2 linked regions of the Homo sapiens genome follow. The protein of the gene in region 2 purifies or fractionates together with the protein of the main gene of each other region. This does not show direct contact. Each region holds a gene or a part of one and is shown on either strand. Other genes may lie near its edges.

What was found. The genes of interacting proteins can lie anywhere in the genome.
Region 1: the proteins of GALNT6 (region 2) and NDUFA12 purify together in Homo sapiens (affinity purification with mass spectrometry; 2 studies listed by BioGRID and IntAct, with this or other methods). This does not show direct contact.

The regions. Positions count from the first base shown.
Region 1 is NC_000012.12:94,976,198-94,979,697, reverse strand, and holds part of NDUFA12 (NADH dehydrogenase [ubiquinone] 1 alpha subcomplex subunit 12), read left to right. Parts: intron 1-3,500. UniProt on the Homo sapiens protein: Accessory subunit of the mitochondrial membrane respiratory chain NADH dehydrogenase (Complex I), that is believed not to be involved in catalysis. Complex I functions in the transfer of electrons from NADH to the respiratory chain.
Region 2 is NC_000012.12:51,388,607-51,392,619, reverse strand, and holds the start of GALNT6 (polypeptide N-acetylgalactosaminyltransferase 6), read left to right. Parts: upstream 1-1,213; 5' UTR 1,214-1,333; intron 1,334-1,424; exon of another isoform or gene 1,425-1,538; intron 1,539-1,682; 5' UTR 1,683-1,770; intron 1,771-4,013. UniProt on the Homo sapiens protein: Catalyzes the initial reaction in O-linked oligosaccharide biosynthesis, the transfer of an N-acetyl-D-galactosamine residue to a serine or threonine residue on the protein receptor. May participate in synthesis of oncofetal fibronectin.

The sequences.
Region 1 (3,500 bases), about 44 Mb from region 2:
CACCCAGCTAATTTTTGTATTTTTTTTTTTATAGGGGTGGGGTTTCTCCATGTTAGCCAGGCTGGTCTCAAACTCCTGGCCTCATGTGATCCGCCTGCCTCAGCCTTCCAAAGTGCTGGGATTACAGGTGTAAGCCACCTCACCCCGTCCCTTTTTAATCCTTTCTGTGTAGTTGTGTTCATAACCATACTCCATTTTACTTGCTTTTTTCCATCAATATTATAAGCAATTTTTCATGTTATTAAAACAATCCTTATAATCACCATTAAAAGATTTTTTCTGATTATAAGAATATACAATTGCTATAGAAAATTTGGAAATCTGGAGAATTATTAATATGAGGTAGAAACAATTCTTTGGCCCAGAAGCAATACTGTTAATATTTTATTCACTGATTCAACAACTATTTGAGGGTCTGCTTTTGGGTAGAGAAAGAATGTTTTGGGGGTGTTTGTTTTAGAGGTGGGGTCTTGCTCTGTTGCCGAGGATGGAGTACAGGAGCTATTCACAGGTGCAATCATAGCACACTACAGCCTTGAACTCCTGGGCTCAAGCATCCCCCCTGCCTCAGCCTCCCATGTAGCTGGGACTCCACAGAGGAATGTTTTTTAAAGACCACAGTGTGAAAAACTGATTGTAGTTTATTGGTCACACCTTCTTTAGAAGAAAGCTTATTATTATAAATAACATATACCTACACATTTCTCATATAATGTATACAACATTTTCTGACTTGCTTCTCCCTCCCCTCACTTAATATGTCACAGACATTTTTCCTGTCTCACTAAATACTGTGTCAGTTCGAGTGTTTTAGTTTCTGTGGGGCTTTTGTATTTAGAAAGGATTGTTGGGCAATTTGGATTTAAAATTAATATACTATTTATTATAGTTGCAAATTTAAAAACCTAATTGTTTTTCATTCTTGAGGTTCAATTTATAAATAGGATAAAAAGATTAGTAAATTGAATTACTTTTTGCATAAAAATAAGGAACAATCATTTTCTCTTGTTCTTTGATGAATGTTCGGTAAACTCTAATGGAAAGGATTACATTGTCCTAAACAGTAATACCCATTTGCAAATTTAGTTAATACATCTCTTTAAGCAGTTTAGTCACATTTATAAATTGAACATATTTGATATTTGAGTTTTTTCAATTCTTCAAATCCCCAGTGCATAGGCAGATTAACCTATCAAGCAAAATGTTCCTAAGCACTTAAATGACTCTTGTTTACTCAAGCCCAAAACTTCAGTGTCATCCCCCAGTCTAATTCTCTAATGTCCAGTCTGTTAGCAAGTTCATCCTGCTTTCGTTTCTCCATATATCCCACATCTCATCACTGCCTCTATGACTGTTACCCTAGTCCAAGGCACAATTATCTCTTGCCTGGACATCTACAGTCACCTCCCAACTGGTTTGATAACATTCTTGCAGTGCACTAGCGTTCCCAACATGCTAAGTGATGAGAGTGCATATTTTTAAATGTAAATCAGACACATCAAGTCTCTGCTCAGAATGACCCAGTGGCTTCCCATCACAGTGAGAGTAAAAACCCCAACTCCTTCCATGCTCTGCGAGGCGTTATGTGATCACAGTCTGCATGCACTGTCCTAGTCACAGCCCTGTTGACTCTGACTTGGCCACATTGGCCTTCTTGCTTTTCCTTGAACAGTGAACATACTCCCAACTCAGTCTCTGCACTAGCTGTTTCCCCAGATTTGGCATGGCTCACACACCTTCACTTTATTCAAGTGCCCATCTGGTGGCTCTTCAGGTGGTCTAGTCTATAAGAGCCCTGTTCCCTCTCATACTCCATACTCTTCCCCTGCTCTGGTTTTTTCCTTGATGGCACTTAACTACCTCTGCTTAACATTTTTTTTATATTATTTAATTTATTGTATGTTTCCCCAAATACCATGTTGGAACAGTGCCTACCACATAGTATTTCTGCAATAGATTTTTGTTGAATGAATGGATGTACATATACATTTTACTTGAAACAAACATTATTTTTTGGGTATGATAATCAGTTTTCTTCACTTTAGCTGATCCAAAAATGGCATCTTCTGCTACTCCTTTATAGCTTTCTAATGAATTTGAAACTAGATTTACCTCTGAATTACATTGCAATTTCAACCTGTCCTTTTTAGTACTTTGACCCACTGAATCATTTGTTACAGTTTTGTGGGGTTTTTGGGGCAGGGGCGGAGGGGTGTTTTTTTTTTTTGACACAAGGTCTTGCTCTGTCACCTAGGCCAAGTGTAGTGCCGTGATCATAACTCACTGCAACCTCAAAATCCTGGGCTCAAGCTATCCTTCTGCCTCAGCTTCCTGAGTAGCTGGGAGTATAGGTGCATGCCACCACACCCAGCTAATGTTTTTGTTTTTGAGAGAGAAGGTGTCAAACTCCTGGCCTCAAGTGATCCTCCAACCTTGGCCTCCCAAAGCACTGGGATTATATGTGACAGCCACTGTGCCTAGCCTGTTACAGTCTTCTAAAATATTATTTCTCTAAATAAATTGCTAGCTGTCAATGGCAGATAATATTTTCTTCAAAGTAAGTCCTTCCTAATGTTTATTTTCTGCTCCAGAAAAATCAGAATATTAGGAGACTGTGTTCTAAGAAACTACAAACTGCATTAATTGGGTAGTTTCTCTTATGTTACAGAATGTTACTTTTCTTTATACCCTTTCTCTGTTAAAATGTGTTCATTATAAGCAGAAGACAAGATTGTTTTGATTTTTAAAACTCAGCTTTTATTTAACACATTTCACTGAGTATTCATTGCTTCATTTAATATTGATTCTAACATTTTACAAAGATGCCTTGTTGGAAAATTCCATATGTGGAATGTGGAAATAAACTATGTATTACTCTTGGTGAATGAGGAACTGCTCAGCATGTTCATTATAGAAAATTCAAAAAATAACAAAAGAAATAAGAATAGCCTGTTATCCCACCACTTGTAGAAACCACTGCTATTAATATTTTGATACACATTTGACCTTCAGTATCTGTGGGTTCTGCATCCATGGATTAAACCAACATTAGATGGAAATTATATCAGAAAAAAGTTCACAAAGTTCCAAAAAGCAAAACTTGGATTTGCTGTGTGCCGAGTATTATGTTGAATCCACATGAATGAAGTCATATGCAGACATCATATTAGGCATTATAAGTAACCTGGAGATGATTTAAAGTATACAGGAGGTTGTGCATAAATTATATGCAAATGCTACATTTGCATATCCACAAATGATCATTTGTGGATTTTGGCATCCACAGGGTGTCCTGGAATCAATCCCCCATAGACACTAGGGACAACTGTTTATTCTTATCTCCTCGATTTCTATGCATATATATTCTTTTGTTTTTGTTATTAATGTAATTGAGCTTTTTGAAGAAGTAGCCTGGGTTTGCAAGTTATTTTAACTTTTGGCAGCCTGGTTTTCTCACTTACTATATTTGGATAATAATATTTATCACGAGTTGTTATAAG
Region 2 (4,013 bases):
GGCCCATTTCTTTTCTTTTCTTTTCTTTTTTTCTTTTTTTTTTTTTTTGATACGGAATCTCGCTCTGTCGCCAGGCTGGAGTGCAGTGGCGTGATCTCGGCTCACTGCAACCTCCCCCTCCCGAGTTCAAGCGATTCTCCGGCCTCAGCCTCCCGAGTAGCTGGGATTACAGACGCCCGCCACTACGCCCAGCTAATTTCTTGTATTTTTAGTAGAGACGGGGTTTCACCATGTTGGCCAGGCTGGTCTCGAATTCCTAACCTTGTGATCCGCCCGCCTCGGCCTCCCAAAGTACTGGGATTACAGGCATGAACCACCGCGCCCGGCCAAAATTTCTAATAAGTTCTCAGGTGATTCTGACTGGCGCTGCTGGTGGGGGATCCCACTTTGAGAAACACCCTCTGCTGTGTGAGCAGCTGCCTCCCCGGTACATTCGGAATAATCATAGTAGGTTTAAAGTTTGCTGGGGCTGGGATTCACCTGATACCTGGCACTTGGAGCCCTTGACACAGTTCATGGCACACGGAATACGAGCTCTTGTTGGATGGAGCACAAATGAGAAGCAAACCTGGGGCAGGACCCCGGGGCCCATGGCCGCCCCGCCGCGTTTCCCCCTCCGGGGCAGGCCTCCGGGCTCCGAGCGCTCCAGGCTGGCGCGCAGCACATTCCGGTTCCATGCACCCGCCGCCCGCGGCTCTGCTAATGCCTGTCCTCTTTGGGGTGACTAGGACCCTCCAATCTTTTTCCGCGCTGAAAGCCTGGCCGCAAAGACCGCACCCCCGGGGCGGGCTGAGACGCAGAGAAGCCGGGGCGCCCCTCTGCCGGTCCGCCGGGAGTTCCCGGGCCCGCAGCAGGCTGAGGACACGGCGGGACCCGCTGCACCTGGCCAGGGAGGGGCGGGGCGGGCGCGTTAGTGCAGCTGGGGGAGGTCCCGCCCCGGTCCCACCCTCCCGGCCGTCCGGTGGGGAAACCCGGGAGCCACCCCGCGGCGCGGCTGCGGCTTTGCCTCGGCGCGACAGGTAAGCGGCAGAAGGAGCCCGCGACCCTCTCCCCGGGAGGGCCCCCCTGAGCTCCCCGACTGCTCGGACTTCCCTTCGGCGGATCTCGCTTCTGCCGAGTCCTCGCTCTCACCTCCTCCTCCGCCAGCCTTCGCCTCTTCCTCTTCCTCCTCACTACCCCCGACAGTAAAATGAAGGGGCTGGGCCAGGCTGGTCCCTCCTGCCTTCGCTCTCTGCTGGTCGCGGTGGCCTGTAGCTCCTCCCTCGGTAGGACCCCCCTCCACCTTGGCGCTTACGAGATGAATGAGGAGCCCAGACCTCTGGAACTTGGAGGGGTGAGAGGGGGACAAGCCAGAGCCAGGGCTCCACACCCTCTTCCCCTCACCCACCCATGCCCTGCATTCCTTCTGTGCCCCGTCTCCCCAGATCGGGCCACCCCATGTGCTCTGGTACGGCAACTCTTGCAGAGAGGTTTCCTCCTGCCCTGCCACGTTGCGCCTGAGCAGAAGGGGACAGCAAGGAGAAGCCTCGCTGGTGGAGGTCGGTCTGAGCCCTGCTTGGTTGAATTCCCTCCAGAGCCTGGGGGCTTTTGGGGGTGGGAAGGGATCTGCCTCCTGCTGTGGGGAAATGGAATCTGCTGGGTGTTCATGACTGTGACTGTCACCGACTTCCCTATTTCCTCAGTTGTTCAGATTCCCAGGCTGACAAAAAGGAGAAACAGCTTTTACTTGCATCCAGGGCCAATCATCGCAGACCCAGACGTCTGCAGAGGGTAGGATGGGGCTCTTCTGTGTATGGGGGTGGAGGGTGGTCAGTTTGCCCACAAAGCTTACAGCAGACCCCTTCTAGCAGCCGACAACCCATTGCAGCACTCTCAGAAAGGATGTTAACTCTGTGCTCTGAGCTCGCCCCCAGGCCCACACACACAATTTACAGGCACTGGGTGAGGTTCATAGTTCTGGACACACCAAAGAGCCTCGAGGACTTTTGCGCCTTCTACCAGAGATGTGTGTGCACCACACAGGCCCTATTCTCCGCTCCAGACAGATGAGCTGTCTCCCTTCCCATCAAAGGAAAGGTTAAGAAGGATGAGACAGGGAAATTCATGTGATGATGAAAACCAGGTCAGGTGAGGGGTTTGAAATATGCTTTGGTTCCGGCCACATGTGGTGGCTCATGCCTGTAATCCCAGCACTTTGGGAGGCTGAGGCTGGTGCATCACCTGAGATCAGGAGTTCGAGACCAGCCTGGCCAACATGGCAAAACCCCATCTCCACAAAAAATACAAAAAGTTAGCCGGGCATGGTGGCAGGCGCCTGTAATTCCAGCTACTTGGGAGGCTGAGGCAGGAGAATTGTTTGAACCTGGGAAGCAGAGGTTGCAGTGAGCTGAGATCGCACCATTGCATTCCAGCCTGGGCAATAAGAGCAAAACTCTGTCTCAAAAAAAAAAAAAAAAAAAAAAAGAAAGAAAGAAAGAAAGAAATATGCTTTGATTCCAATTGCCTAGCAGGAGCCAGTAGCATTGCAGGCATTTCCCTAGCTCCAGTTCCTTAATGGTGCCATGCACTTTAGGAACCCAGAGGTAATCAGAGAAAGTTGCTTCCAGGGGCACCAGGGCAGAGAACAGGACAAGACCCTCAAAAGAAAGAGGGAAGTGTGCAGGAGACTGGGCTGCTCAAGATGACCTCACCTCAGTAATGCTGCCCACAGTCCTACAGTGGGTGGAACAGCTGACTCCTACCTGTAGCAGCATGGAAGAACTCAGGGCAGAGAAGGGGAGGCCCTGATGTGTGTCAGGTGCCCTGTGAGGTCAGAAACATATTTGCCCAAGTTCAGCTGGAAGAAGTGGGGACAGGAAATATGAGCATGAACTTAGTCCATGCAACCATTGCCTCGAACAGACCTCAGGACCAGGAGGGGCAGCTAACCCTAGGGCTGAGGGCCTCTCAGTGCAGGGAGGCAGTGAGTATCATGAAGGCAGGCAGCTGACTCAGCCCTGTCACTAACTTCGATATATAATCTTAGCCAAAACACATAAACACTCCCTGGGTGGGGAGCAAATGAGAAGGTGTATATGAAGTGTTTTGGCAAAGCTCCAAGCACCAGTCAAATGCAAGACAATGTGATGTCATAGTTAAGAGAGTGGGCTTTGGAGATACATAGGCCTGAATGCAAATTCTGCCTCTGCCACATTTCTAGCTGTGTGACCTTGGTCAAGTTACTTGACCTCCCTGTGCTTCAGTTTCCTTCTGTGTAAAACAGAGAAGATAACTGTAACTTGATTTGATATGGTAAGCAGTAATATTTAAAATGGTGATGGTATTCTTCTTAACATTTTCTGGCTCCCACGGATGTGTTCCGACATCTCAGCCCTGGAAGGGATGCTGAAGACCAGGTTGGGTGTGTCCATGCCGTAGCTTGGGTGAACTCAGCTCTTTACACAGTCCTCTGCCCCTTTCTGGGAAAGCCCAAATGTTCATTCTCATTTGATAGGAACGAGAGTGAGGATTTGAATAAGCAGGAGGTTAAGTGCAGGGCAGTGCCTGTCTCTGTGTCGAGCTCAATGTTGTAATTGTGCTGTGTAAAAGGCCTGTGTGGTGAACAAGGGTGAGCTCACTCCAGGGAGGAGAAGGACTGTTAGAAGACTTTTGTGGCACCTGACAGCCCTGTGGGGTCAGCTTATTCTCTCGTACCCTGAACAACTTGGTCCTAAGGCCTAGGTAGAGATTTGAAGGAAGAAAGCAACCCAGTCCTCAACTCTGCACGTAATAGAGAATGAAGAACAGACTAGCAAAATAGCATTGCCATACATCTCAAGGCAGAGAGATGCGACAGGGATTGGAAGGCCAGGTAGATTGGTCAGGAAGAACATTCTGGAGACAGAAGTTTGGGGACCAAGACTCAAGGATTGGGAAGGAGAAGGAAATAGGATCTAGGTGGTCTACCGTCTAGGCCTGTTGGTTCTCCCTTCTCCATGATAGTTAGTGGGGAAATCCCACGTAAGGAAAGCACG